Homo sapiens: one gene and its partners. The gene in region 1 interacts genetically with each later gene. Each region holds a gene or a part of one and is shown in the gene's direction. Other genes may lie near its edges.

Region 1 (4,341 bases):
TCAGCCTCCCAAGTAGCTGGGATTACATGTGCCCGCCACCACGCCCAGCTAATTTTAGTATTTTTAGTAGAGATGGGGTTTCACCATGTTGGTCAGGCTGGTCTCAAACTCCTGACCTCAGGTGATCCATCCACCTTGGCCTCCCAAAATGCTGGGATTACAGGCATGAGCCACTGCTCCTTTCTGTCTCTTCTTATTTTTTGGATACTTTTGGCCAAGGATACCCCATTATCTCCTTATTTCCTAATTCTGGATACTTGGCATATGTGCTGACTAGAGTTTGTTGTACTAGTCCTACTACCCACTGTTCAAAGGCAGCAAGAGAGTTTGAGCTGTGGATCAGCTCAAATTGTCATCAGTGGTGGAACATTTTTTCTTATGTGCTTGCAGAGTTTTATTAAAAAATTATCTTTTGATAAAAGTAATGATACTGGTATCAGAAAGATTGGATGTCATATAGATCTGTGGTTTTTTTTGTTGTTGTTTGTTTGTTTTAGAGACAGGATCTTGCTGTCTCCCAGGCTAAAGGGCAGTGTCACGGTCATAGCTCACTGCAACCTTGAATTCCTAGCCTCAAGTGATCCTCCTACCTCGGCCTTGCAAAGTGTACATCAGTTTGTGTAAGAAAGGTCCAAGAAGTGAACAGGCCTGAAAGTTGAAGAAAGGTACTATAAATGAGAAGAGGTGTATAGAATAAGTCCATTCAAATTTTTGAATTTTTCTTTTTTTTTTTAAGATGGAGTCTCGCTTTGTCGCCCAGGCTGGAGTGCAGTGGCACAATCTTAGCTCACTGCAACTTTCGCCTCCTGGGTTTAAGTGATTCTCCTGCCTCAGCCTCTGGAGTAGCTGGGACTACAGGTGCACATCACTGCACCTGGCTAATTTTTGTATTTTTAGTAGAGAAGGGATTTTGCCATGTTTGCCAGGCTGGTCTTGAACTCCTGACCTCAGGTGATTCTCCTGTCTCAGCTTCCCAAAGTGCTGGGATTACAGGCGTGAGCCACGGTGCCTGGTCTGAATTTTTCTTTTATTCATTTACAACTTAAAAAAAAATGTTTACTGGCTGGGCACGGTGGCTCACACCTGTAATCCCAGCACTTCCAGAGGCCGAGATGGACGGATCACGAGGTCAGGAGATCGAGACCATCCTGGCTAACACGGTGAAACCCTGTCTCTACTAAAAAATACAAAAAATTAGCTGGGCGTGGTGGCGGGCCCCTGTAGTCCTAGCTACTCGGGAGGCTGAGGCAGGAGAATGGCGTGAACTCGGGAGGCGGAGCTTGCAGTGAGCCGAGATAGCACCGCTGCACTCCAGCCTGGGCAACAGAGCGACACTCCGTCTCAAAAAAAAAATGTTTACTGTTTGCCTATCTGTTATAGATGCTAAGATACGAAGTGTAAATCAAATCCCCAGACATTGCAGACATTGCTCTATCATCTGGCATTTGTTGCAGTGGGTGAAGATGGCAGAGGCTACCCTGATTTTTGCTAATTGTAGGTAAACCTTTTTTTTTTTTTTTTTGCCTGCATCTTTTTTTCTTTCTAGTCTTTAAATTAAGATATTCCTGTAGGCTATGTTTAGGCATAAGTTTCTTTCCAGCAGCTTTGTTTTTTTTAGAAACATGGTGAATTCTTTCAATTTATAGGTAAATATTTTAAATCTTTTTTTTTTTCCATCTTAGAACAGTTTTTCAGTTGTACATTTGCTTATGATTGTAGTTCAGAAATTCCAGTTATTTGTAGGTTGGACCTGTGTTCTTTGTCCTTCCATCAAACAATATGCATTATTTTCATCATGGTCTTTTTTCTTTTGTGTGTTTGGAGAGGATCTTATGTGCTTATACACTGAAACACGAATGTGATTTTTTTCCAGCTTCTATACATCTCTCTGTTGCCTTGAATGTAGAATTTTTATCTCTACTGTTACGTGTTTGAATTTCCTTCCAGTTTTTTCTTATCCAGTTTCCTTTTTCATCTCAGCTGTTTTTCCTTCCTCATCTCTTGCTTTTAGAGGTCTTTCCCTTTCTCTTTTTCTTTTTAAAATTGGGAACATAGAGTAGATAATTCCTCGGTTTGATTTCCATATTCCTAGTGTAAGTCCATTACAGGAGCAAGCTTTCCCTCTTCCTGTTTATGGTAGTTCCCCTCTTTTCTTATGCAAGAGCTTCTTAAAGGTCTTGTGTTGTTATTAATGTTTTTGGTTTACTTACCTTGACAAAAGAGGGGCATGTTGACTGGTCAGAGTGACCAAGTGTTCCTTCGTCTCTCTCACTACACTTGGAAGCTGGAGGAATCTTCCTCTTTATGTTAGCTTGGAAAGCAGATGAATGGGTACAACGAAATTTATGAAGGATAGATCATTTTCTATACTTAGGAGAGGTCTTCCTTTCCTAGTGTTGAATCTTTCGGTCCTGTAACTATAATGAGGGGAGTGTTTTTGTGTGATTTGAAATAATTTATAGTTTTTTTTTTTTTAGTTTTTTGGGGTGTTAGTGGTGAGACTGTACTATGCTGAGAGCTCATTCTGTTCCTGCAGCTACCTGTCGCTCGCTGCACAGTACTCAGTGCACCTCAGGGCTTTACCTTCCACATCTGGCCATGCACACTGCACTACTGGGAGAGAACTGCCTTGAAAGAGAATTACCAGTGGAGCTAGAAACCAGGAGGGGAGGGGCAACTCAGGATCTGTTTCTCTGAAGGGAATGGGAGAGAGTGAAATGACCCTCTTTCCCCTGACCTAGTGATAGAGAGGTCAGAGCAAGCCTCAGCTACCAACAGAGATTCCTCATTTCCAGCCAGGTACAGTGTTGCCTCTCATTTAAACTTTGATTTGGAATATGTATTCCAATGGGAAGGCAAGGAGGGAGAATTGAGCCTGCTGGTCATCTGTTGTTAGGACTGATACGACTTCTCTTCTGATGTGTCTCTGTGCTATTTTATTGGATTGCCCAGGGCCATGCCTTCTGTGTCCCACCCAGGCTGCCAAATGTCTTGAAATCCAGGTCTTTTACCAGCCCTGTCAAAGTGATTCATCTTTTGTCTAGGGATCATGCTAATCTTTTAGCATGATTCCCTTTGAAAGTATCCCAGGTGCTAATTAAAAGTAATTATTTTGGGTCTTCAGAATCAGGTTATTTTTCTGGCCAAGGCCTAGGATTCCACATTTGAATTTGCACTGTGGGTGCTTCTTTGCTGTCTAAAATTTGAGGACCACTGCCTAAGGACCTTGCTAGGTAAGTGATTAAATTAATCTGAATCAATTCAAGCCAAATTGCCATAAAAGTAGTGGGTTGATGTTTAACTCTCCTACCTGATAGTGCATGTTTTTTAAAAAAGAGTCTACACTTAGAGTTATAAATAATGTGGAATTGTTGCTAGGAGGGACAAGTATTCAGGAAATTGCCTACTTTATTAGTCAAAAATGATTTTTAATGTTTAAATGTATGCATCGCATGTTCTGTGGTAATCACATTTTTGTAAATGATCTTAAGTTCTGGGAAATTCAGTTATATTTCTTATAGTGTTTTAGTCCTATTATGACTTTGATGTACATTGATTTATAGATTCATCAAATCAACGTCTCCAACTAAAACAATAACAAAGAATTAGTTCTACACACATTAGATTAAAAATCACATTAAACAGTATGGAGAGTGGTAGTGAAAAAATTGTTTTCAATTAAAAAGGATCATTTAAACAATGATTATATACAGTGTTAGAATTCACTAAGGCTGCTTTTCTGGAAAGATATATTTGAACAGCAGCAGAATAAGCTTCTTCTATCCTTCTAGTCTAAGGGCTAACTTACAGTTTGGAAAGACTACCCTCACTTGGAAAAACAGAAAATTATTCTATTTTTCCAATCTTTAGTCTCTGCTAAAGCAGTTAGAAAAAGGTTTTGATTGAATGTCACAAAACAAAAACAAAAACAAAACAACACAACTCTTCAGCCAGAGTAAGACTCAAGCAAAATGGATGTATTAACAACTTATGCCAGGCGTGGTGGCTCACGCCTATAATCCTAGTACTTTGGGAGGCCGAGGTGGGGTGGTGGGTGGATTGCCTGAGCTCAGGAGTTCGCAACCAGCCTGGGCAACACAGTGAAACCCCATCTCTACTAAAATACAAAAATTCAGCCTGGTGTGGTGGTGTGTGCCTGTAGTCCCAGCTACTTGGGATGCTGAGTCAGGAGAATCGCTTGAACTCGGGAGGTGGAGGTTGTAGTGAACCGATATCATGCCACTGCCTGGGCGATTCCGTCTCCAAAAAACAAAACAAAACAAAACAACTTATACTTTATGACATGAGGAGCGCTGACTCATTTCTAACCTACTTACAACT
Region 2 (4,297 bases), on another chromosome or scaffold:
TTGTAATATACAATTAATGTGTTGTCCTTTAAAAATTTTTAATTTTCTTTAATAGGTAAAACTGTATCCCTTTCAAACTTATGTATCTTGGCAGATGCTTTATAGAAAGTGCAACAGCATATTATGTCTCAACCAAATTTAAATGATAGCTTTTAATGTTTTAATAAACTGTATCATAGTATAGTAGTGAAACAACGTTGGTCCCTTTACTCACTCTCAATGCAAGTTAACTGCTCACCCATAATTCCTTTTGTAATGAAAATCATTAGTATTTAATTAGGTTTAGCTATGATGTGAAATAATTATATTTATTTATGTTTTCTTGTCTTTTTCTCTCCTTTTACACAGCTACTTCTGAGTGGAGGAGCAGACAATAAATTGTATTCCTACAGATATTCACCTACCACTTCCCATGTTGGGGCATGAAAGTGAACAATAATTTGACTATAGAGATTATTTCTGTAAATGAAATTGGTAGAGAACCATGAAATTACATAGATGCAGATGCAGAAAGCAGCCTTTTGAAGTTTATATAATGTTTTCACCCTTCATAACAGCTAACGTATCACTTTTTCTTATTTTGTATTTATAATAAGATAGGTTGTGTTTATAAAATACAAACTGTGGCATACATTCTCTATACAAACTTGAAATTAAACTGAGTTTTACATTTCTCTTTAAAGGTATTGGTTTGAATTCAGATTTGCTTTTTTATTTTTATTTGTTTTTTTTTTTTTTGAGATGGAGTCTTGCTCTGTTGCCTAGGCTGGAGTGCAGTGGCGCAATCTCAACTCACTGCAACCTCCGCTTCCTAGGTTCAATCGATTCTCCTGTCTCAACCTCCCAAGTAGCTGGGATTACAGGCACACATCACGATGTCCTGCTAATTTTTGTATTTTTAGTAGAGACGGGGTTTTGCCATGTTGGCCAGGCTGGTCTTGAACTCCTGACCTCAGGTGATCTGCCCACCTCAGCCTCCCAAAGTGAGCCACTGTGCCTGGCCGAATTAAGATTTGTTTTTGAAATGCTGTAAAAGGTTATATTGGAAATCCAGTAATTGATTGTTGAGATTTTTATTTCTGTTAGAGACTTAGATTTTTTTAAGTTAGCTATTTTAAAAAAGCATTCAAAAAGATTAATGAAAATTGTAATAGAGAAAAAGTTAGAAATTCAGTTCCTTTTGGCAGAATAAATGTTCAAGAAAATTAGGCTGTGAGGGTACTCAGAACATTAAAAAAAATGTAGGCTGGGCATGGTGGCTCACACCTGTAATCCCAGCACATTGGGAGGCCGAGGCAGGTGGATCACCTGAGGTCAGGAGTTTGAGACCACCCTGGCCAACATGTCAAAACCCTGTCTCTGCTAAAACTACAAAAATTAGCTGGGCATGGTGGCGACCGCCTGTAATCCCAACTACTTGGGAGGCTAAGGCAGGAGAATTGCTTGAACCCGGGAGGCAGGGGTTGTAGTGAGCTGAGATTGTGCCACTGCACTCCAGCCTGGGTGACAGTGCAAGACTCTGTCTCAACAACAACGATAACAAAATATTGATTCGGCAGGGCACGGTGGCTCATGCTTGTAATCCCAGCATTTTGGGTGGCCAAGGCAGGCGGCTCACCTGAGGTCAGGGGTTCGAGACCAGCCTGACCAACATGGTGAAACTTTGTCTCTACTAAAAAAAAAAAAATCCAAAACAAATTAGCCGGGTGTGGTGGCACACTCCTGTGGTCCCAAGTACTTGGGAGGCTGAGGCAGGAGAATTGGTTGAACCCAGGAGGTGGAGGTTGCAGTGAGCTGAGATCATACCACTGTGCTCCAGCCTGGGCAGCAGAGCCAGACTCTATCTCAAAATAAAGACAAGTAGATTGCCAATTTTTGAAGAATTCATCAAGATATTTTAAGGAAGGCACTTTATATTAAATATATGTCAGATCCTTTAGAAATTGCATACAGTTGGTTGGGCACGGTGGCTCACGCCTGTAATCCCAGCACTTTGGGAGGCTGAGGCGGGCGGATTGCCTGAGCTCAGGAGTTCGAAACCAGCCTGGGCAACACAGTGAAACCTCGTCTCTAATAAAATACAAAAAATTAGCTGGGCGTGGCAGCATGTGCCTGTAGTCCCAGCTACTCCGGAGGCTGAGGCAGGCAAATTGCTTGAACCCGAGAGGCAGAGGTTGCAGTGAGCTGAGATTGTGCCACTGCATTTCAGCCTGGGCAACAGAGCAAGACTCTGTCTCAAAAAAAAATAAAAAATTGCATTGCATACAGTTTTCACTGTAACCCTAATCTTTCCTCATGTGTAGATTAGAATAAATTTTTTAGACAAAACCTTTCATCAGTATTAAACATTCTACAGATTTTATGATATCATTAGCATTTATCTTTATGCATGTGTTATATAAAAATATTTAAAGTAAATGTATTTTTTAAATGTTATTTCCATTATTAATGGATTGATACTCCTTAAGTAGAGCATTCACAACCTTTTAGTAATATTTGGGAAATATGTTTGGTCTCATTATTAGATGGTATTACATCTCAAATGATGTTCCTGTTGCAGAAGTCTGCGAAACAATATCTAAACTTGGCTGCAGTTGAGAGCTAAACAGTGTATTGAACCAGTTAGGAGTTTAGTTCTCTGTAGAAAACCAGAGGCAGTCCAGGGCTGATGTAGGTTTTGTTCCACATTCTTTAGGATCCTAGGCTCCCTCCATCCCTGGTATGTGGTCCTCATTTTCATATAGACCAAGAGCTAGAGCTCCAGTTACCATTTCTTAAAGTATATTTTAATGCCAAATAGTGAATAAAGGTGGCCAGAAAATTCATGCACAGAATCCTTCTTTTTCTCATTTTGTGCTGATTGGTATAAATTTTATTGTATTTGTAGTCTCTGGAAATCTTCTAACTTTGAGAGGACAAAGATGAATTCCTAGTCCTGTTTTGGATGGTCTTCAAATGATCCTTAAGGGCAGTTATTTAAAATGTCTTTCTTAACTCACCCAACCTAGGCTGACCGAATGTAGTCTGTATAAACTAGATGGTTAAAGATAAAGAAGCCTATATATCAGATGCATAGACAAAGAATAAAATGGCATCCAGAACTGGTCCCCACCTATTCCCAATCCTGGTTCCACAGCAGAATACATTCATAGTTCAGGCATTCTTCCTTGAGATAGATATAATGTAAGTGACCAAGTCTCTTGGACAAGTATTGTCTCTGATCAATCCCTGCCAAACTCCTTTCCTTGGTTAACTCAAGTGGTTAGATCTTACTCCCTGAACAGAAGGAATATGAGAGGTCAATACATGCCTAGACTATTCAGTCCTCTGATATTGCTCCACACCCTTTCCCTCAAAAGCCATGAGACCTTTCAATGGTCCCAGTTCCTCTACCAGAACACCAGAGATGCCTGCTTTACATGGACTTATATATTCCCAAGAATCACTTGGATAAATGAGTGGTGCTGCTTTCCCGTGGTTGGGGAAAAGCTAGGAACCTGACAATGCAGTGCTCAGAACCTGCTGACCGGTACTAGTTATGCTGTCTTGCCATAGTAGTGCAGTTCTTTAAAATGTTGATACTTGCTCTCTTATCAAAGGTTGGTTTTTTTGTTTTTTTGTCAAGACAGGGTCTCACTATGTCACCCATACTGGAGTACAATGGTGTAATCTTGGCTTACTGCAACCTCCACCTTCTGGGCTCAAGCTGGCCTCTCACCTCAGCCTTCCAAGTAGCTGGGACCACACCCAGTCAATTTTTTATTTTTTATTTTTTAATTTATTTTTATTATTACTTTTTTTGTAGAGAGAGGGTTTCGCCATGTAGCCCATGCTGGTCTTGAACTCCTGGGCTCAAGCTGTCTGCCCACCTGGACCTCCCAAAGTGCTGAGATTACAGGCATGAGCCACCGCACCCAGCCCAAATAAAGTTTTAAGAAATTACTTGGCCAGGCATAGTGGGGCCTTTGTAGAAAAACATAGCTTTTCTATGAGAAGATGATCAATATTTTCTTTTCCTTTGAATTTGGAATTACCATTTTGGAACTGTTGTCAACAATGCATAATAATATATCAGAATGCTTCCTAGTATATTATTGGAGAAAGAACAAACAAAAGTTTAAATTGATATAAAATGCATATAATGGAACAAGCAACCCTGCAAAAAAAAAAATATATATATATATATACCATCTGGGAATTTCTGATAATAACATTGAAATCTGTTCACACAGTCTAAAATTCTTTTGATGTATCGTAGTTTTGAAAAAAAGGTAACAGTTTACTATATATAACAAAT
Region 3 (3,439 bases), on another chromosome or scaffold:
ATATATGCAGGCAAGATGGAAGAGATGTCTAAGAAAATGTGTCTACAGTGTATCAGAGCGGTAGCAGAGCAGTTAGAATGTCTCCACAGATTTTTTTTTTTTTTTTTGAAACGGAGTCTTGCTCTGTTACCCAGGCTGGAGTGCAGTGGCGTGATCTCGGCTCAGTGCAACCTCCACCTCATGGGTTCAAGCGATTCTCCTGCCTCAGCTTCCCTAGTAGCTGGGATTACAGGTGCCTGCCACCACGCCCAGCTAATTTTTGTATTTTTTTTTTTTTTTAGTAGAGACGGGGTTTCACCATGCTGGCCAGGCTGGTCTCGAACTCCCGACCTCAGGCGATCCACCAGCCTCAGCCTCCCAAAGTGCTAGGATTACAGGTGTGAGCCACCACACCCGGCCGTCTTCACAGATTTAAACATGAACAAAAGGAAAAGAAATAGTATGCAGCTGTACAGACATACTACAGGAAAAAAAGACAAGGGTTGTGGGAAGGATGTAATTATGGTAAGCATAGCTGGAGCAAAGACTGTATAACCAACTCTGTTTTTTCTTTCCTTTTTTTTTTTTAAATTCTTTTTAAATTGATACAGGGTCCCGCTATGTTACCCAGTCTAGTCTTGAACTCCTGGGCTCAGGCAGTCCTCCTGTTTGGCCTCCCAAAGTGCTAGCCACTGCGCCTGGCTCCAACTCTTCTTTTTCTTGGAAAGGGAGCATCTAATTCAGCAGTCCCAACCTTTTTGCTGCCAGGGACTGGTTTTGTGGAAGTCAATTTTCCATAGACCTGGGGTCAGGAAAATGGTTTTTGGATGATTCAAGCACATTACATTTATTGTACACTTTATATTTTACAATGTAATAATAGAAATAAATAATTATACAACTCAACATAATGTAGAATCAGTGGGAGCCCTGAGCTTGTTTTCCTGCAGCTAGACAGTCTCATCTAGGGGTGATGGGAGACAGCGACAGATCATCAGGTATTAGATTATCATAAGGAGAGTGCAACCTAGATCCCTTGCTTGTGCAGTTTGCAGTAGGGTTTGTGCTATGAGAAGCTAATGCCGCTGCTGATCTGATGGGAGGCAGAACTCAGGCGGTAATGCAAGCAATGGGGAGTGGCTGTAAATACAGATGAAACTTCACTGGCTTGCCTGCTGCTCACTTCCTGCTGTCTGTGTGGCCCAGTTCCTAACAAGACATAGACCAGTACCGGCCTGGGGGTTTGGGACCCCTGATATAATTGTATCTTAAAGACTGTGGTAGAACCTAGCAGGCAAGAACTCTTAAGTTATGACATCAAAGCATTAAATTATTTGGATTAAGACTGGACAGAAAGCAATGCCTCGTAGTATCTGCAAAAGGGCAAAAGAGGAACTTAATGTAGGTATGAGAGATGCCAAAAATGTTTATAACAAGCAAGATAAAAATGGAGATTCATTATGGACAATTCATTGATAATAGAGAACTTATTTATACCTAACCTTGTTCCCGAAAGGTTATAAAATGTCTTACAGATGAATGTACAATAAAATATCGAATGTAATTAAAGATACATAGATAAGGACATCCATAGAGAAAATGAGAAAGGACTAGTAGTGTAGTTCACAAAATGTACCATTAGTTCTTGCATATTTTTTTAAGAACTTGACTTAAGTTTTCTAGCAGTCATCCTAAAGAGGAAAGATAATAATTTTTACATTGGCTATTAAAATTCAAACAAATAGTCACCGAGGATCTAAGATCAGAGAGAAGTTTATTGAAGGTCTTCATAAATGACATTATACTGTCCTCAGTAACTTCCTCGCAGTAAATATGTCAACAAGTTCTTAGGGCTTTTAACCATAAGGCTGATGGTTTAACTCAGAGACAATTCATTAAAAGTGATTCTATAGGAGTCCAAAATGATAGATTCCAGGTATTCAGACGGATAAAAAGTCATTGATAATCTCATGATATTTTTGTGAGTATGATGAGTAATAGGGTTTGGATAGGTTCTTGTTTGATTTTTATCTTTCCTAAACCTATTTTTCTGATTAGACCATCTTCAGTTTCTGAATTATAAAATCTGTAGGAGTTTTAAATAACAAAACCTTCAAGATAGGGTAGGGAATATTTTCATTTTATTGCCACTGACATCCTTTTGGGGGAAGTTAAGAATTCTTTTAAAAAATCCCCAATTGTATCAGAGTTATCAGACCAGTTCTCTTTGTCATATGAAGATTATTAAAACTCTTCCTTTTACCTGTTAATTACAAAATGAAGACACATATTAACATGCCTATTTTTTCTCTTAACAGCATATCTTTCTGAAGCCATGAAGCTGACACAGTCAGAGCAGGTGAGACATATTCCCAATATTTGCGACAAGGGTTAGAAAGGTTTTCTTGTGGAGGCTTGAATTGTGTGTAAAGCAAAGCATTGTGTCCCTCTCAAAATGCTATAGTCAAAAATATATAAAATGGGCAAGGGAAGAGCACTTCACAACGGAAATTAAAACTAAATGAACTGCAGTCGATGCCCCAGACATGGAATGCAGAAACTTCTTTTTTTCTAGTGGTTACTCACAGATCTCAGATTGCCAGCCAGATGTACCTTTTAGAGAGCCCTCTTCGGACCATTCCTAATCATTAGCTCTTATTTGATCATTAGCTTACAGTCAGTAAACAGGCCTGGCCAAGAGGAAACTAGTTGGACCACCCTTTGCTTGTCAAAGATAATTTAAATCTGACCAGTCTCCCACTTGTCTTTGCTTGAATTCTTAAGCAGTTCAGGCACTTTTAAATTTGTTTCACCAATTGCTTTAAATTGTCTTCTGTGTTTGGGGAGGCCCTGCCAAGTGTTTCAAGATACATTTATTCATAAGACTGGGCATGGTGGCCCATGCCTGTAATCCCAGCACTTTGGGAGGCCAAGGCAGGGGGATCACTTGAGCCCAGGAGTTCGAGACCAGCCTTGGCAACACAGTGAGACCCCATCTCTACAAAAACTTAAAAAATTAGCTGGGCGTGGTGGCACATGCCTGTAGTTCTAGCTACTTGGGAGGTTGAGGTGAGAGGATCACTGAACACCTGAGTCCAAGGCTGCAGTGAGCTATGACTGCGCCATTGCACTTCAGCCTCAGCAACAGGGACCCTGTCTCTAAAATAAATATATATAAAATATCTTTTTAAAAACTTTTTGTTATAAAAGTATTAGTTAAAGAGATCATTTCTGTGAGGTATATCAGTGGCAGGGAAAGCCACTAGTTTCTCAAACTGAACCAAGGGAACTTTAAAGTTGTGTTCTATCCCTTTCACTGCCTTTGAAAGTATAGAATCTGCTCATGATACAGGCATGCATTGAGTTATCCAAACACGCGGTTGATAGGAAGACTTTCTTTTTAGCTGTTGGTAGAATTAATATGTCTACAGAGGAAAGATTTCTAATTTTGAGTACAAAT
Region 4 (3,065 bases), on another chromosome or scaffold:
TGTGATCTCTTGTGAGTCTATAATTTTTTTAAATACAAAATTTTAAAAAAAAATATCCCTGTGTGTACCTGTGTGTCAGGTAGAAAACCTCGTTCCTGGGGTTTATATAGCTGCAAACAAACAGACATGGCCTCTGCCACATGGACTAATGTCTTGGTTCTTGTAGTAGGAAAACATGTTGGACAATTAGTGACAAGAATAAAGGGAATTATGAAAGAGAAAGTATGGTGTCCTGTACAAGAAAGAACATAGCAAGCTGACTTTGTCTCATCTTGAAGATCAGTCAAGGAACAATTTAAATGAAGGCTCAAAGGATGAGAGACATCAGCCATATGAAGAGGTGTAGGCAGAACATTCTAGGCAGGGGGAGCTGTAAGTAGGCAACTAAAGTGCCAGCACCATTAAATAAAATACTGCTTATGTGGAGGAGAAAAGCTCAAAACTCATTTGTTGTCAAAAGTTGACAAGCATTCAAGAATAATGGTGAGAATAGCCTGCTAATAGCATTATTCCATATGCAGGTTGATGCCGCCTTACCTTTGGACATCCTAACCTATGAAGAGAAGACCTTGTCAGCCATCTTGAGAATATGTAGCAGGTATGACAGAGAGTGGGAAATTTCTAGTATAACAGGGCAGAGAGACCGATGGAGCAAAAATGCTCTCTTCTGAGAATGAGAATAAATTTTTTGTTGTGAACTCTGAGCAGCTTTTGGGAATTTAAACTGGGATGAATATGAACATTCATCCACCAGAAACTTGTACTCTAGAGAGGGCAAAACTTACGATTTGGTTACAGCTGTAGTTTTCCCATTGATGGTTATAGTTGCAAAGTCAGAAGTGAATATTTTAGAAACCTTAGTTGAAGTTCATTTTGTTCTCTGTCTATGACACACTATGTATTTTCTTGATCTTTCTGCAGTGGTCTTGTCAAATTGTGGAGCTCTTTGACCCTGTTAGGATCCTATAAAGGCAAAAAATGTGCTTTCCGGGTGATTCAGGTAAAGACTATTCCCTCACATATTCCAAACAAGACTGAGTGATGGGTCAACTGCTTCTTAATATACACAACTCATTTTTGTGCTTGCATAAATGTAATATGGTTAAAATGATCTAAGTAGGGGAAAATAAAGGACTTGATTGTTTCCAAAAATGTGAGACAGAGCACTTAGATTTTAAAATCTATGGGAGATGTTTTGGGATAAAACTTGCAACCCTGTGGTTAAGGCTTACTTTTTTTATTTAACACTTAATGCCTTGTGTGTTATATATTGGTACGCTCTTTTTGAGATGTGACCACTTGTTATCGAAGGCTTCCTCTCAGGATGCTCTGTAAAATGCTCCTGCATCAGCTTTGTTTATCCTGTAAAACTGGGCATGTTTCCCCATTGCCCTGTGCTTCAGTGTGGTTTCTCCCAATGCCTTAACCTTTTTCTTTCTCTTCTAGGTTTCTCCATTTCTTCTTGCATTATCTGGTAATAGTAGGGAACTAGTATTGGATTGAATGAATAGTCTTCCATTTTGGAAACGTTCATCCACTCTCATATTTATTTTTTGGTGCCTGCATGTTTGAAGACTGAAGCAGGCTAAAAGCTCTTGATGAAATTTGAGGGTGCTGAAGATGTTCCCACTAATTTCCAGCCATCACCTTTGGTGGGGTGGGCTTCGGAGGACAGTCTGTCTGAACCTGCCAGTGCTGACCCTGCAGCACTTTCAGCATATGCACATCAAAGTTGGAGACCGCGCTGAACTTAGGAGGGCCTTCACACAGACTGATGTGGCTACCTTCTCAGAATTAACAGGGGATGTCAATCCTTTGCATTTGAATGAAGACTTTGCAAAACACACCAAGTTTGGAAATACAATTGTACATGGAGTTTTGATCAACGGACTTATCTCAGCTCTCCTAGGAACTAAAATGCCAGGGCCAGGCTGTGTATTTCTTTCCCAGGAAATTAGCTTTCCAGCCCCTTTATATATTGGAGAAGTTGTTTTAGCTTCTGCAGAAGTGAAAAAGCTGAAGCGGTTCATTGCTATTATTGCAGTGTCATGTTCTGTAATAGAAAGTAAAAAGACTGTTATGGAAGGCTGGGTTAAAGTTATGGTTCCAGAAGCTTCCAAATCCTGAAATAGATGTTTTAAAGATGCAACCTCAAACACCAATGCTGTTGTTAAAGAGCCTATGGGGAATTGCTGCTCTTTACCAAAGAATGGTTGATAGGCCCAGAAGCCCATCTTAGTTAGGGGAAGGGAGCAGGAAGAGGGTTGTTCAAATGCCCACTTTCCAGTTTGGCCTTATGCTTCATGCAGACTTGAGTGTATGCAGGATTTCATTATCTGCCTGGGTTTTTTGTTTGTTTTTTGTTTTTTAATTCAAGAAGTAGGCTGGGCCCGGTGGCTCATGCCTGTAATCCTGGCACTTTGGGAGGCTGCGGCAGGCGGATCACTTGAGGTCAGGAGTCCAAGACCAGCCTGGCCAACATGGTGAAACCCCATCTCTACCAAAAAAAAAAAAAAAAAAAAAGTGCAACTAGCTGTGCTTGGTGACTTGGCCCTGTAGTCCCAGTTGCTTGGGAGGCTGAGGTGGGAGAATTGCTTGGGCCTGAGAGCTGGAGGTTATGGTGAGAAACTGAGATTGCACCACTGCACTGTAGCCTGAGTGACAGAGCGAGACCCTGTCTCAAGAAAGAAGTATTGGGAAGGTTATTTAAAGACTCTACTTTTAAATCAGGCGTGGCAGCTCACGCCTGTAATCCCAGCATTTTGGGAGGCTGAGGCAGGCGAATCACTTGAGGTCAGGAGTTCAAGACCAGCCTGGCCAACATGTGAAACCCCATCTCTACTAAAAATACAAAAACTAACCGGGCATGGTGGCGGGCACCTGTAATCCCAGCTACTTGGGAGGCTGAGGCAGGAGAATCTCTTGAACCTGGGAGGTTGCAGTGAGCTGAAATCACACCACTGCACTTCAGCCTGGGTGACAGAGCAAAACTCCACCTCAAAAAAAAAAAAAAGATTCTACTTTTAGAAATTCAGACCTAGATAGATTTGCATTTGGATAACAAA
Region 5 (5,080 bases), on another chromosome or scaffold:
AATTTAACATCATAATTCAAAAGCACCCAAAGAACATATCCTAACAGTAAATTAGTAGTACCCCTTCATATTAAATGAACTGCACTATGTTTTAATTGTAAATATTGATATATTAGGCATTTTGAAACTTAAATAAGGAAGTAGAGTTACATCCTTGAAACATTGTATAAGGAATTTTGTAAGATGCATTACCTTACCACTCACAGTTGCTCTGATACCAACTCTTATTAAAATCATTTTTTTCCATCTGTGGTTGTCCCATCCCATAATATTTAATAATATTAAGATAGTTTTTTAAGAAAAGGTAAAATCATGACTCATTCAAATATAAAACCAAACCCGTGTTCAAGATTTTATTTAACTCAAAATGGAACCAGGCAGAGAAGATAAAGAAAATCCCAGAATTAGACACCTTAGAGCAGGAATATTGAAATAAATGTGCAAAAGGAGGCAAAACTTCCACTGAATCTCTGAGAGAATTCGCATGTCTTGACAATAATTATTTAGCATTGATGTCACTTACCTAGTTTACGTAACTGAAAAATAGCTTTTTTAGAATTAGTTATTCCAAGGGGTGTTAAGATAGAATCTAAACTATGTAGTTTTCCATTGAAGCACACACTTCTCCCCATAATAATATAATGCACAGCACCTGTCAGGGATATTAACCATACATACCCACTCAAATGCTCCCTTTCCCACCAAGCTTATTAAAATAATAGTTTGTGGCCACAATTTCTTCCCTTCTCATTTATCCAATACACAGCAATCTTGTTTCAAAACTCCTATGCTGCTACAGCTGTCCACAGTCTCATCATACGCATTCTTTGCTATTGCAATTTTCTTGAATATGGAAGATTAGCTGAACATGCATTAAGCTCAGGAAACTCTAAAGAAAATCAGATAATGTAGACAAAAGTCTAATTTCTAGGCTGGCTGCAGATACCTTGTTCAAGAAGCGCCGGCAGGATCTTCTTTTGTACAGCTATGTTAGCTTTAATTTTGCACAGCTCTAGACATCAGAACTCATTTCTAAACACTTCTATGCAGCTCAAGAATAAAAGTAGCAGAAATGCAAGAGAGAAAAGCTAATTCCCACTTGGTGAAAGAGCACTTAAGTCTCAGTGAGCAAACAAGGAGGAGTCAGCCTTGGTCACTTCCCCCTCAAGCGGCCAGAGAGCGGAAACACAAAGCCAGGCCAGTGTCACTCCAGGGATTGCGGGAACCTAGACAACGCACCATCCTGGGCTCAGCGTCTACCCACCCCTCACCCGAGGTGCTCTCGGTTCCGTAGAATGTCCAGTCCACAGGAACGGCAACACGGACTTGTCTTTGGGACTACAACCAGCAAGAGCTCCCGCCTGCCCCATTTCACCTGCACCCTAGGGCGCCCGCCTCCTTGGCTACAGCACCACTGTTCCTAGTGCCCGCCGACTGCCCACCCTTTCACTTCTCGTAGAGACGGCGTCCCCGACAACGCCTCGGGAAAGAACCTAACCAACATGCGAGGAAGTGGCGCCAGGCTCGTTCTTCAAGAGAAGTGACAGAACTAACCCTCAGCCTGCAATCCTGACCAGGGCCGAGTCCCGAGCGCCTCGGACCGCGCCCCCGGCCCTCTCCGCCCCGCCTTCCCTCCCGGCCTCAGTCCCTCCTCTCACAGCACTCTGGTGGTCCCATCCGGGCGGCGGGCGGCACGGATCAGGCTCCTGGTAGAAGGCGGCCGAGCGACATCTCCGGCGACCCTCAGCAGGAGCGCGCCGAGTACGGCGAGTCAAAGTCCCAGGAGACTGGAGTGACCAGCTGCAAATGCTCTGGGCTGCGAAACACCGGCTTCCGCTCCTGGCCAGAGCTCACCAATCAGCGCCCGGCTTTCTCCGTCATTTCCTCCTAGAAGGCAAAGGGAACCTCTGGCGGAAGAGGCTTCCGGAACGGACCCGGAAGGGGCAGGTCTTGTGGGCGGGTCCAATCGGCTGGGAGCCTCGTGGAGGCTGAGGTGAGTCCTGGAGGTGCGTGGTTGGGGCGGAGAGCATTATCTGCGGCTCCGATTTTGCAGATTCTGGCTGAGGCGTTCGTGATGTCAGCAGCAGCCGAGACGGGCGTGTTAAAGGCCGGTTGCTAGGGCTGGGGGAACTCAGGTAACTACGGGCGTCCCCACAGCAGTACTTGGAAGCCCCTCAGCTACTCGGCGCGGTTGCGGGTGCTGAGCAGAGCTGCCTGACCGTGCGTGTGCACGGGCTGGCCTGAGGATGATATGACCGTGTGTTCGGTGTGTGGAACCCTCCGTCACCCTCCCCTGACCGAAGACTCGTTTAGGAATGTGTGGCAGGTCTGTTGCCACGGTCCAGGCCTTCAGTGCATCTTGGAAACATCGTTTTGGGGGCTGTAGGTTAGGAAGCGGAGATCATGGGGTCTCGGAAGAAGGTTTGGTCGTGAACTGTCAGAAAGGAGGCGAAAGCTGTGCACGTGGAACAAAGTGAACAGTGCAAGTTGTATGGGAGGTAGTTTAAATATCGAGGCGATGAAAAAAGGCTGCTAGAATTGGGCTTACTCGAAAGGAAGTGGGCCTCAGAAGATAATATTAGTTAAAAGAAGTAGAGGAGAACATGGATGTTATTCTAAGTAAAACGAATAATATGAAGAATACAAGGTCGCGGGACGAGGAAGGAAACTAGCCAGCCTGACAGGAAGGTTTATTCGAGAAATACGGGGGTTAGATAGGATGAGTTTTTGGAAACTGGCAAACGATTTAGCCTTTTCAAGGCTTTAGGATAGGGAAAGCTCATTTGAAAAGATTAGTCGGTAGTATTATGACGTTTAAATGAAAAGAGTGAAAAACATGGAGGCGGAGGTGCTAGGTGGAAAATCAGTGCAGTAATCCAGTGATAAAGAGCTGGAACTGAAAGTGCTGGAGAGAAAGGGATCCTGTTTCAGAGTAACAGTCAGGTGGAATTGACTAAAGAGAAAGAGGCAAAGAGAAGCAGTTTAGCATAGTGGTTAAAAGCAGAAATTTTGGAGTTAGACTGGCTGGATTGGGATCTGGCTTTGGCAATTAGCTGCTAAATGACTTTGAGTTAGCAATTTGCCATCTCTGGGTCTGAGTTCCTTGTCTGTAAAATAGAGATAGGAAGAGTGACTTCCCTTGTGGTGTTATTGTGGAGAATTTGTTTATTTATTTTTAGAGACAGAGTCTCACTGTCACCCAGGCTGGAGTGCAGTGGCGTGATCATAGCTCACTGCAACCTCGAACTTCTGGACTCAAGTGATCTTTCTGCCTCAGCCTCCCCGAGTGCGTCACCATGCCTGGTTAATTTTTTAAAAAATGTTTTGTAGAGATAGGTTCTTGCTGTGTTGCCTATGTTGGTCTGAAACTCTTGACTCCTAGGCCTTGGCCTCCCAAAGTGCTGGCATTACAGGCATGAGCCACCATACCAGGTCCTTATGGATAATTTTTTTATGCTCATATTTACAATGTGCTAGAGGCTTTTCTAAGTGCTTTGCATATGTTAGCTCGGTTTCATTAATTGCTGTATGTAATTAAACAATTGCATAATGTTATCAGTTACTATAGCGTAAGCACTCTCTAAATCTTGGCTGCTATAATAATATTTTTTTATTAATAATTCAAAGGTTATTAAATGGTTTTGAGCCTGAAGAGCTGGGAAAATTGTGTCTTAGTGTCAGAAGAAAAGAGAGGGGTACCAGAAGTAAGGTAGGCTTGGTTATAGACATGTTAAATGTGAAACTATAAGGTATTCAAGTGGAGATGTTCAGTAAATATTGGAAACTCTATAATTAGTATTCATGTAGGTGGAAAGGACTGGAAATAGACAGATGGGAGTCCCTGGACCTAGGCATGCTATATGAATTCTCCAAGGAAAACACTGTAGAAGGAGGTGGTAGATGGCCAAAGACAGACAAACATAAGGAACAACTACAGAGTCTGGAGGAATAAGAGGAATTGGGAAAGAATTAATCAAATGGCCTAGGCTAAGAGCATTATCACCATGTTAATATTATCTTTCCTTGATTTTAAATTGGCTTTATGTTGGTTCCTGTGAGAGAAGCAATGAGGCCAGTAAGTGATTATTACCAGAAAATATTATCAGAGAGTTGAGATTGAATTTTTTTTGTGTTAGACTAAAACAGCATTTGATAATTAGAAAGACCCTGTAGAGTTAAGCCAACCAACCAAAGAAACAAAAAACAATAGCAAAAAGAAACAGCTCCTCATAAAAGACTGTAACTTCTTTATTTTTGTGTGTTTTAAGTTGCATGGGTGTTTTTTGGGGATACTTTTTACTCTTCCATGTAAAGAACAGATGGGACTGATTTGTTATCTCCTTCATTCACCTCTTGTCCCTTTTATAAATAACCAGTGGATTATGGATTTTCAGTGAATTTAATAAAAGTGCAGAAATTATGGCATCTTTCCAAAAATAGTGTGCCAAGTTGCTCAACCATTTTCTATGCCAAGGGTAAGTGGCTGCTCTGATTTTGAAATGAAGGACAGACTTTCATGTACTAGTAGTTCTCAAAGTGTGGTCCAAGAACTGCAATAGCAGCATCACTTGGAAACTTGTTAGAAATGAAAAATTCTAGGCCCTACCTCAGACTTATGAAATCAGAAACAGGTGCTGGGAGAAGAGATGAGATGGTGTTTTCTAGCAATGTTTTCATAAGCCCTCCAGGTGATTTGGATGTATACTAGAGTTAGAGAACCACTGTACAAGAAGGTAAGTACCATGAGGTTAGGGATTTTGCCTTGTTAATAGTGTATTTCCAGTGTCTAGAATGGTGCCTGTCTAATTGGTAGGTTTTCAATAGATATTCATTGAAAAATATGTTCAGTCTCAGACTGCCAATCTCTGTGTAAAAGCTTTGATGCTGGTTTAATGGGCAGAAGTAAATCAGTTTAGCTGCATTGAGCCTATAATGTCAGATATGCATGAGGTGGGCATGACAACGTGACTAATTTGGAACTTGAGGAATGAGGGATTATATTGAGTCAACACTGAATAAAAAATGATGTCCAGGTATTTTAGGTCAATGATTCATTTAGAGTAAATAAAGATTAAGAAGT
Region 6 (4,341 bases), on another chromosome or scaffold:
TTTTTTTGAGACTGGGTCTTGCCGTGTCACCCAGACTGGAGTGCAGTGGCATGATCAGAGCTGACTGTAGCCTCAACCTCCTGGGCTCAAGCAAGCCATCCTCCCACTTCAGTTTCTGGGACTGCAGGCGCATACCACCATGCCTGGCTAATTTTTGTGTTTGTTTTAGAGACGGGGTTTTGCCATATTGCCAAACTGGTCTTGAACTTCTGGGCTTAAACAATCCTCCTTCAGCCTTCCAAAGTACTGGGATTACAAGTATGAATCACTGTGCCTGGCTATATTTGTCATTTATTTATTTATTTTTTGAGACCAGCTCACTCCTGGGCTTAAGTGATCCTCCTGCTTCAGCCTCCCAAGTGCTGGGATTACAGGTGTGAATCACTGTGTCTGGCTGTATTTGTCATTTATTTATTTATTTTTGAGACCAGGTCTTGCTCTGTCACCCAGGCTGGAGTGCAGTGATGCAATCATGGCTCACTGCAGCCTTGACTTCCCGGGTTCCAGCAGTCCTCCCACCTTAGCCTCCTTAGTAGCTGGGATCACAGGTGTGTGCCACATGCCCAGCTAATTTTTGTATTTTTGGTAGAGACAGGGTTTCCTCATGTTGCCCAGGCTGGTCTTGAACTCCTGAGTTCAAGCAATCCACCTGCCTCGGCTTCCCAAAGTGGTGGTATTACAGGTGTGAGCCAGTGCACCTGGCCCATATTTATCTTAAAAAAAAAATAGATGTTTATCATTTTTTATATAGACTCATTGAAAAAATGACTTTGTGTTCTTCCAGTACATACCATCATGTCTGAGAGGGCAGAGATCTAGACAAGTGTGGGAAAGATGACTTTGGATCAAAATTTTCTTGTGAATATAATGTGCTTATGCGTAATTTAAAGCTGACTGTATTAAAGATACATTTTTTGTCAACCAGATGATTGTTAAATACCTGTGAAGTATGTGTGGCCCGGTCCTATTTCCTCACCTGTTTACAGTGAATCAGACGTCCCAATAGATGTGGAGACGGTCACATCAACGCCTATGCCACTCTATGACAATCAGAAGGCACGCAGCGTGATGAATGAGTGTGAACGGCATGTCATCTTTGCCAGGACTGATGCAGATGCCCCTCCTCCACCAGAGGACTGGGAGGAGCATGTCAACAGGTAGGCTGCTCATCAGGAGGATGATCACTGCCCTGTAATTATTTTGTATCATCTTCATTGAAATAACACTTATTAGGACCTTATTTCATTTGCAGCAACACAAGTCAGAGTGTTCTCCAAAGTCTCACATTATAACTCTCAGTTCACCATGCTGTGTGTGAGCTCCTTGAGAGTAGGGCTTACATCTCAGCCATCTTTGCATACTTCACACTAGGACGTTGTCTGGCACACAGTAGGCATATAATGTTTGTTGAATAAATAAGTGAATTAAATTTGATACATATGACTAGCTCTGTAGTAGCTTCTGTTGTATAAGTTATGATATAGGGGTTACCCAAACTGCAAAAAAATGAAATGTACATTTGTAAGATATTGTGTTTAAATGGTTTATAACTAGGATGATGGAAGTTGTGAAGTCACATGAAAAGCTAACAGATGTTTGAGTGGCTTTTAAAAATAGATTTGCAGGCTATGGAGGGCACACTGAAGCCTATTTTCACGAGTATACTGGCTAGTTTTGTTCCCAAGCTTTCTACTGCCCCCAGGGGACTCAGCACTCCTCTCCTGGTTATTTGTCCCTGTTCATTTGGTAAACATTTACCTAATTACATAACAGCTTTTTGGGGATATTATTTACATACCATACAATTCAGCTATTTAATATGTACAGTCATTGGTTTTTAGTATAGTCAGAGTTGTATATTCATCACCACTATCAATTTGATAAACATTTTCATCATCCTAAAAAGAAACCTCTTACCCATAAACAGTTACTTCCCGTTTCCTCCCAGCTTCTCTGGTCCCTAGGAAGCACTAATTGACTTTTGTCTTTATAGATTTGCCTATTCTGGACATTTCATATAAATGGAATCATGCAATATGTGGTCTTTTCCTACTGGCTTCTTTCACCCAGCATGATGTTTTCAAGGTTTATCCATGTGGTTGCGTGTATCAGCACTTCATGCTTTTTATTGCCAAATGACATTACATTGTATGGATAGCCCACATTTTATTTATTCATTAATCAGTTGATAGATATTTAGATTGTTTTCATTTTTTGGCAATTGTGAATAATGCTATTATGAACATTTGCATACAAGTTTTTGTGTGGATCTAAGTTTTTAATTCTCTTAGTTATATACCTGGGAGTGGACTTGTTGGGTCATATGATAACTCTGTATTTAACCTTTGAGGAATTGCCAGACTGTTTTCCAAAGTGGCTGTACCATTTTACATTCCTACCAGCAGTGTATGAGAGTTCTAGTTTCTCCATATCCTTGCCAACACTTACTGATTTTCTTCTTTTTTAAAAAAATTATAACCATTCTACTGCGTGTAAAGTGGCATCTCATTGTGGTTTCAACTTATATTTTGTTGATGGCTTTTTGTCTGTGTATCCATATATCTACTATATATATAAGGAAATGTTACTTCTTATATCAGGAGTTGGTAGGTGGTAACTTTCCATAATTTTGGAGAACCCTTATTTTATAATAGAGAGAAAGAGGGGTAGAAAGTTTGAGGTGATTGACATGACTTCTGAAGCTGGTTGGAAGTTGGGAATGAGATTGAACAGGTGTGCTTGTGTGATCAAAACAGCAGCTGTTGAGGGAGGAGCAGTTCTGCACCTTGGTTGAAAAAGCTTGTGAAGAAGTTGGTTGGGGTCTTGCATTGGAATTAATTTAGTGCCTTAAGAAGCTCTTTTCTCACGCCTGTAATCCCAGTACTTTGGGAGGTTGAGGCGGGTGGATCACCTGAGGTCGGGAGTTCAAGACCAGCCTGACCAACATGGAGAAACTCTGTCTCTGCTAAAAATACAAAATTAGCTGGGTGTGGTGGCGCATGCCTGTAATCCCAGCTACTCGGGAGGCTGAGGCAGGAGAATCACTTGAACCTGGGAGGCGGAGGTTGTGGTGAGCCGAGATCGTGCCATTGCACTCCAGTCTGGGCACCAAGAGTGAAACACCATCTCAAAAAAAGAAAAAAAAGCTCTTTTGAGCTTCAGATAAAGAAGAAAACTGCTACGAATGAAGATCAACTACTGGAATATTGCTAGAGTCAGTATATTCAGCAAAAGGATTTATCACTATTTTTACAGTTAATAATAAAAAATAACGACGATGGTAATAACAAAAAGGAGCTACCGTTTGTTGAGTGCTTTCTAGGTGCCAGACATTGTATCAATGTCTCTTCAAATGCATTGTCTCTTAATCCTCCCAATGACTCTTGGAGGTATATCCCCCCTTCATCTCTGCTCAACAGGATGAAGAAACTGAGCTCAGGGTGTTTAAGAAACCTTAATTAGGAAGTGATGGAGAAGGATTTTGTTCAAACCAAGCAGCCTGACTCCAGAACCCAGTGTTCTCAACTACCATACCCTCTGCCTTAATTAAGGGCAGTAAGAAGAGATTAAGACCAGTTAGTGGTGGCTGAACAAGGTGGCCTGGTATGGTTATGTATCCCTTTGTGGTATTTTCTACTACCTTGTCCTTTGCAATTTCAGAAAGTACATAGGAGAACTGTGTGATTTTTTTTTTTTTTGTCAGTTTATCCATGGTTATGATTAAGAGGTTTTTGTGGACAATTCATACTTATCAAAGTCATTAGAGACTTAATAATACTATAAATACCAGTTTGTTTCTTTTTTCTTTTTTTTGAGACAGGGTCTCACTCTGTCACCCAGACTGCAGTGCAGTGGCACGATCTCAGCTCACTACAAGCCTTGACCTCCAGGACTCAGGTGATTCTCCCGGGTGGGAACCTTAACCTCCCAAGTAGCTGGGACTACAGGAGTACGTCACCATTTCTTAATTTTTGTAGTTTTTGTAGAGATTGGGTTTCACCATGTTGCCTAGGCTGGTCTCAAACTCCTGGCTCAAGTGGTCTGCCCACCTTTGCCTCCCAAAGTGCTAGGATTATAGGTGTGAGCCACTGCACTTGGCTGAGTTTCTTAATTTATAAGGAGAGATATAACTGCAAAGCATAAGAGACACTGGGGTGGCCTGGCCAGAGTGTCTGTTCTCAGCAGGAAAGTCTGGAAAACCATTTTATTTCAGAAGTGAATAGATGAGTGGAGAGTCTACACAGGAGGCACAGCAGAATAGCTGGATGTACACATCTTTCCTCTAGGCAAGATGAGTCCACGGAATAGGCCAGTGTGCACCTTCTCCTGCCTGTCCTTTAG
Region 7 (4,341 bases), on another chromosome or scaffold:
TTGGCCAGGCTGATCTCCAACTCCTGACCTCAGGTGATCTGCCCGCCTTGGCCTCCCAGAGTGCTGGGATTACAGGAGTAAGCCACCGTGCCCAGCCGGCCACTCATTCTTTAGAAAGTCAGAGTCAAGGCCAGGCTCAGTGGCTCACACCTGTAATCCCAGCACTTTAGGAGGCCAAGGCAGGAGAATCATGAGGTCAGGAGTCCATTGCAAACAGCCCTGGCGACAGTGCGAGACTGTGTCTCACCAAAAAAAAAAAAAAAAAAAAAAAAGTCAGAGTCAAATGAGCGAAATCAGATTCAAATCTAATTAAATGGAGTACTATAGTCCTTTTAGATATTTGCATCTTAATTTAGGACAGTACTTTTTTTACTTTTTATTTTGAAATAATTGTAGACTTAACCAAAAAGTTGCAAAATGGTAGAATTTATGTGTATCCTTAACCCAGTTTCCCCGATGATACAACTTACATAACTCATAGTACATCTAGAACTAGAAATACCATTTGACCCAGCCATCCCATTACTGGGTATATACCCAAAGGATTATAAATCATGCTGCTATAAAGACACATGCACACGTATGTTTATAGCGGCACTATTCACAATAGCAAAGACTTGGAACCAACCTAAATGTCCAACAACGATAGACTGGATTAAGAAAATGTGGCACATACACACCATGGAATACTCTGCAGCCATAAAAAATGATGAGTTCATGTCCTTTGTAGGGACTTGGATGAAACTGGAAACCATCATTCTCAGCAAAATATCGCAAGGACAAAAAACCAAACACCGCATGTTCTCACTCATAGGTGGGAATTGAACAATGAGAACACATGGACACAGGAAGGGGAACGTCACACACCGGGGACTGTTGTGGGGTGGGGGCCTGGGGGAGGGATAGCATTAGGAGATATACCTAATGCTAAATGACGAGTTAATGGGTACAACACATCAACATGGCACACGTACACATACGTAACAAACCTGCACGTTGTGCACATGCACCCTAAAACTTAAAGTATAATAATAATTAAAAAAAAAACTCATAGTACAATGATCAAAACCACGACCATGCCATTATTATTACATTATTATTAGCTAAACCAGAGATCTTAATCAGATTTCACCAGCTTTTTCTCTAATGCCCTTCCCTGTTTCAAGGTCCCATATTACATTTTTGTGTTTTATGAGTCCCCTCTAATCTGTGACAGAAAGTTCCTCAGTCTTTCCTTTTCTGGCCTTAACACTCTTGATGATACTGGTCAGGTATTTTGTAGCATGTCCTTCCATTTGGCTTTATCTGGTATTTTCTCATGATGAGATTGAAATAAGGTGTTTTGACAAGTACATCACAGAAGTCATGTTATGTCTTTCTCGGTGCATCATGTCAGGGATCCCTGATGTTGATGCGTCTCTTTCCTGGTGATGTTAACCTTGATCACTTGCTCAAGGTGATGTCTGCTGGCTATCTCCACTGTGAAGTTACTGCTTTTCCCTTCGTAATTGATAAATATCTTGGGGGAAGATGCTTTGAGACTATACTAATATTTTGTTCCTCCTGAAACTCAACCACTGATTTTAGCATTCATTGTTGGGTCTTGTCTGCAACAGTTATAACTAAGGTGTTTGCCTGATAGTGATTTTTTTCTCTTTCCCTCTCTTCCTCTGCATTTACTAACTGGACTTCTGTACAGAAAGCTATCCCTTCTCCCTCATTTATTTACTCAGTTATTTACATCATGGACTTTTAATTCTGTGGGTTGTATCCAACACTGTCATTTATCTTGTTACTCAAAGTTTTCCACTTTGGGCCATTGGGAGTGCCTTCTGGCTGGCTTCTGTGTTCTTACATACACCTCCCATCCCCAGCTTTATCTTACATATTCCCTGTCCCTGCCCTGCAAGGAGCTCTGGTTCCTTTTATTGGAGAATGGTATGTAGAAACGAAGATCTGGGCACTAGGTATGCTCATTGCTGCTGGAAAGAGTAGCATGTTTTTGTTTGTTTGTTTGTTTTTTTGAGATGGAGTCTTGCTCTGTCACCAGGCTGGAATGCAGTGGCGCGATCTCAGCTCACTGCAACCACCGCCTCCCTGGTTCAAGCAGTTCTCCTGCCTCAGCCTCCCAAGGCACGTGCCACCACACCCAGCTAACCTTTTTGTATTTTTAGTAGAGACAGGGTTTCACCATGTTGGCCAGGTTGGTCTCGATCTCTTGACCTCGTGATCCCGCCCACCTTGGCCTCCCAAAGTGCTGGGTTTACAGGCGTGAGCCACCGCGCCTAGCCCAGTAGTGTGTTTTTAAAGGACCTAAAAGTTTTAAATAAAATGAGGGCCACAAGGTGAAATTATCCTTTATTAATTGTTCTCTTAACATCTTCTTAAATTTTCTCCTGAGACTGGTGAGCAGAGGGACCCAGAGCAAGGGGACTTAGGGGAAAGAAGGCAGTAATTAGGGAGGAGGAGGCCAGGAGGAGGAAGAAAGCATTTCATGGGATTACAGGAATGTCCCAAAAACAACCTCACTGTGATGAAGTCCACTAATGCTATTTCTTCACTTCTGTTTTTCAGAAAACGGTATTTTGTCTCCGAGTACACTCCCATCGATAGCAATATAGCTTTTTCTGTTAATGCAAGTGACAAAGGTAGGCATATTTGTCCATGAATAAAAGGGTTCAGATGATGCTGTCTGTCATGAGAGCATTCGTTTCCTCAGTGGGGTTGCAGCAGTGGGTGAGGTGGTGTGCCAGTGCCGAGGACACGGCTGCGACCAAGGCAGACATGGTCCTTGCCTTTGTGGCCCTACCATCTAGTCAGGGTGGCACAGCAGAACCAAGTAATTAATCATAGCTGGGGAGGCGCGAAAGCAGCAGGACAAGAGTGGGAATAGCAGGGCAGGGTTGAACCTCACCCTTCAGAGGCTCCTGTGTCGGCATCTCCTCTGTGGGGTGGGAATAGCGCTCATTGAGGGCAGCCAACAAAGGTGGCTTTGCTGAGCAGATAGGTAGCTGAGGGCAGGGGTCTCATATGTGTCCCCAGGTGGGCTTGATTCCTGCCATGAGATAGCAACTAATGCTTTCCCTGTTCCGACTTTCAGGAACGGCTTGGCTCTTAACCTCCACCTTCCCTTCCTCTCCCGTTCTTCCAGGAGAGGCGTCCTGCTGTGACCCTGTCAGCGCAGCATTTGAGGGCTGCTTGAGGCGGCTGTTCACACGCTGGGGGTCTTTCTGCGTCCGAAACCCTGGCTGTGTCATTTTCTTCTCGCTGGTCTTCATTACTGCGTGTTCGTCAGGCCTGGTGTTTGTCCGGGTCACAACCAATCCAGTTGACCTCTGGTCAGCCCCCAGCAGCCAGGCTCGCCTGGAAAAAGAGTACTTTGACCAGCACTTTGGGCCTTTCTTCCGGACGGAGCAGCTCATCATCCGGGCCCCTCTCACTGACAAACACATTTACCAGCCATACCCTTCGGGAGCTGATGTACCCTTTGGACCTCCGCTTGACATACAGATACTGCACCAGGTAACCTGCTGTTTGAAGAAATAAGTCACTCTAGATGACCTTGTGGTTTGCTGGCTTTTACATGTTGACTACTGCTAGATGGGGATTTGGGGCTGAATGTCATGGTATATCTTGAAAATCTTAGCGTATAATGGCAAAGCTGCCTTTAAGTTAGGTTTCAAGAAAGTGAATGATGTTGAACTTAATGGAATATTTATTGTTGCTCACTTTTGTATTTACTTCAGATAGTAGACCTTGCCTTTTTCTTGAAATTGAGATGAGCAGAGAAAGAAGACTTCAGTGGCGTTTCTCTATTGAGGCAGGATATATTTATTAGGAAGTCACCTTAGGAATTTGTGAAATGTTTTCTGTTGGTAACTGAAAGTAATATGCAAGGACCCAGAGGCATGAAGCCCTTACTGCTGTCCTGGGGGCTGAGGAAGGAGCTGCCAGATTACCATCCCTGATCCAACCTGTAGGAATGAACTTATCACTCACTGCCTGAACATGGGCACCCAGCCTGTTTTTGGTGAGAGGCGCATTTGGGGCAAGATCCATCCCATTGCTCCTAGAAAGGCATGTAAACCTTCCCATTGTCCCTGTCACACTTGCCTTGGAGAACTGTACCTGTGCATAAACTGTACCGGCTTCTTTTTTAATGAATGTATAATCACATGGTTTTTCCTTTAAACATTGCTCATGTCTACAAGAAAGTCTGCAATCTTGAAAAGCATTAAAATGGTCCCAAGACTTGAATCTTTTCTCTACCCAGTGACTGTCTGTTGCTTTTTCCAGCTTGTTGCTGAAGGTGAACAGCATAGTCATTTACCTCCAAGATCA

Evidence for each region.
Region 2: of ATG10 (region 1) and WDR12, changing one suppresses a phenotype caused by changing the other (phenotypic suppression), as found in Homo sapiens cells (one large-scale study listed by BioGRID).
Region 3: of ATG10 (region 1) and NRBF2, changing one enhances a phenotype caused by changing the other (phenotypic enhancement), as found in Homo sapiens cells (one large-scale study listed by BioGRID).
Region 4: of ATG10 (region 1) and RPP14, changing one suppresses a phenotype caused by changing the other (phenotypic suppression), as found in Homo sapiens cells (one large-scale study listed by BioGRID).
Region 5: of ATG10 (region 1) and WDR3, changing one suppresses a phenotype caused by changing the other (phenotypic suppression), as found in Homo sapiens cells (one large-scale study listed by BioGRID).
Region 6: of ATG10 (region 1) and KANSL3, changing one enhances a phenotype caused by changing the other (phenotypic enhancement), as found in Homo sapiens cells (one large-scale study listed by BioGRID).
Region 7: of ATG10 (region 1) and NPC1, changing one enhances a phenotype caused by changing the other (phenotypic enhancement), as found in Homo sapiens cells (one large-scale study listed by BioGRID).

Annotation. Positions count from the first base shown.
Region 1 is NC_000005.10:81,978,185-81,982,525, forward strand, and holds part of ATG10 (ubiquitin-like-conjugating enzyme ATG10), read left to right. Parts: intron 1-144; exon of another isoform or gene 145-665; intron 666-1,315; exon of another isoform or gene 1,316-1,494; intron 1,495-2,723; exon of another isoform or gene 2,724-3,233; intron 3,234-4,341. UniProt on the Homo sapiens protein: E2-like enzyme involved in autophagy. Acts as an E2-like enzyme that catalyzes the conjugation of ATG12 to ATG5. ATG12 conjugation to ATG5 is required for autophagy. Likely serves as an ATG5-recognition molecule. Not involved in ATG12 conjugation to ATG3.
Region 2 is NC_000002.12:202,876,989-202,881,285, reverse strand, and holds part of WDR12 (ribosome biogenesis protein WDR12), read left to right. Parts: intron 1-348; coding exon 349-426; 3' UTR 427-4,297.
Region 3 is NC_000010.11:63,149,853-63,153,291, forward strand, and holds part of NRBF2 (nuclear receptor-binding factor 2), read left to right. Parts: intron 1-375; exon of another isoform or gene 376-504; intron 505-2,297; coding exon 2,298-2,338; intron 2,339-3,439. UniProt on the Homo sapiens protein: May modulate transcriptional activation by target nuclear receptors. Can act as transcriptional activator (in vitro). Involved in starvation-induced autophagy probably by its association with PI3K complex I (PI3KC3-C1).
Region 4 is NC_000003.12:58,315,994-58,319,058, forward strand, and holds part of RPP14 (ribonuclease P protein subunit p14), read left to right. Parts: intron 1-521; coding exon 522-598; intron 599-921; coding exon 922-1,000; intron 1,001-1,446; coding exon 1,447-1,503; 3' UTR 1,504-1,620; coding exon of another isoform or gene 1,621-2,127; 3' UTR 2,128-3,065. Other genes in the region: HTD2 (hydroxyacyl-thioester dehydratase type 2, mitochondrial), read left to right, coding at 1,621-2,127. UniProt on the Homo sapiens protein: Component of ribonuclease P, a ribonucleoprotein complex that generates mature tRNA molecules by cleaving their 5'-ends.
Region 5 is NC_000001.11:117,927,790-117,932,869, forward strand, and holds the start of WDR3 (WD repeat-containing protein 3), read left to right. Parts: upstream 1-1,949; 5' UTR 1,950-1,993; intron 1,994-5,080. UniProt on the Homo sapiens protein: Part of the small subunit (SSU) processome, first precursor of the small eukaryotic ribosomal subunit.
Region 6 is NC_000002.12:96,628,128-96,632,468, reverse strand, and holds part of KANSL3 (KAT8 regulatory NSL complex subunit 3), read left to right. Parts: intron 1-925; exon of another isoform or gene 926-986; coding exon 987-1,157; intron 1,158-4,341. UniProt on the Homo sapiens protein: Non-catalytic component of the NSL histone acetyltransferase complex, a multiprotein complex that mediates histone H4 acetylation at 'Lys-5'- and 'Lys-8' (H4K5ac and H4K8ac) at transcription start sites and promotes transcription initiation.
Region 7 is NC_000018.10:23,555,424-23,559,764, reverse strand, and holds part of NPC1 (NPC intracellular cholesterol transporter 1 precursor), read left to right. Parts: intron 1-2,574; coding exon 2,575-2,648; intron 2,649-3,100; coding exon of another isoform or gene 3,101-3,151; coding exon 3,152-3,522; intron 3,523-4,341. UniProt on the Homo sapiens protein: Intracellular cholesterol transporter which acts in concert with NPC2 and plays an important role in the egress of cholesterol from the endosomal/lysosomal compartment.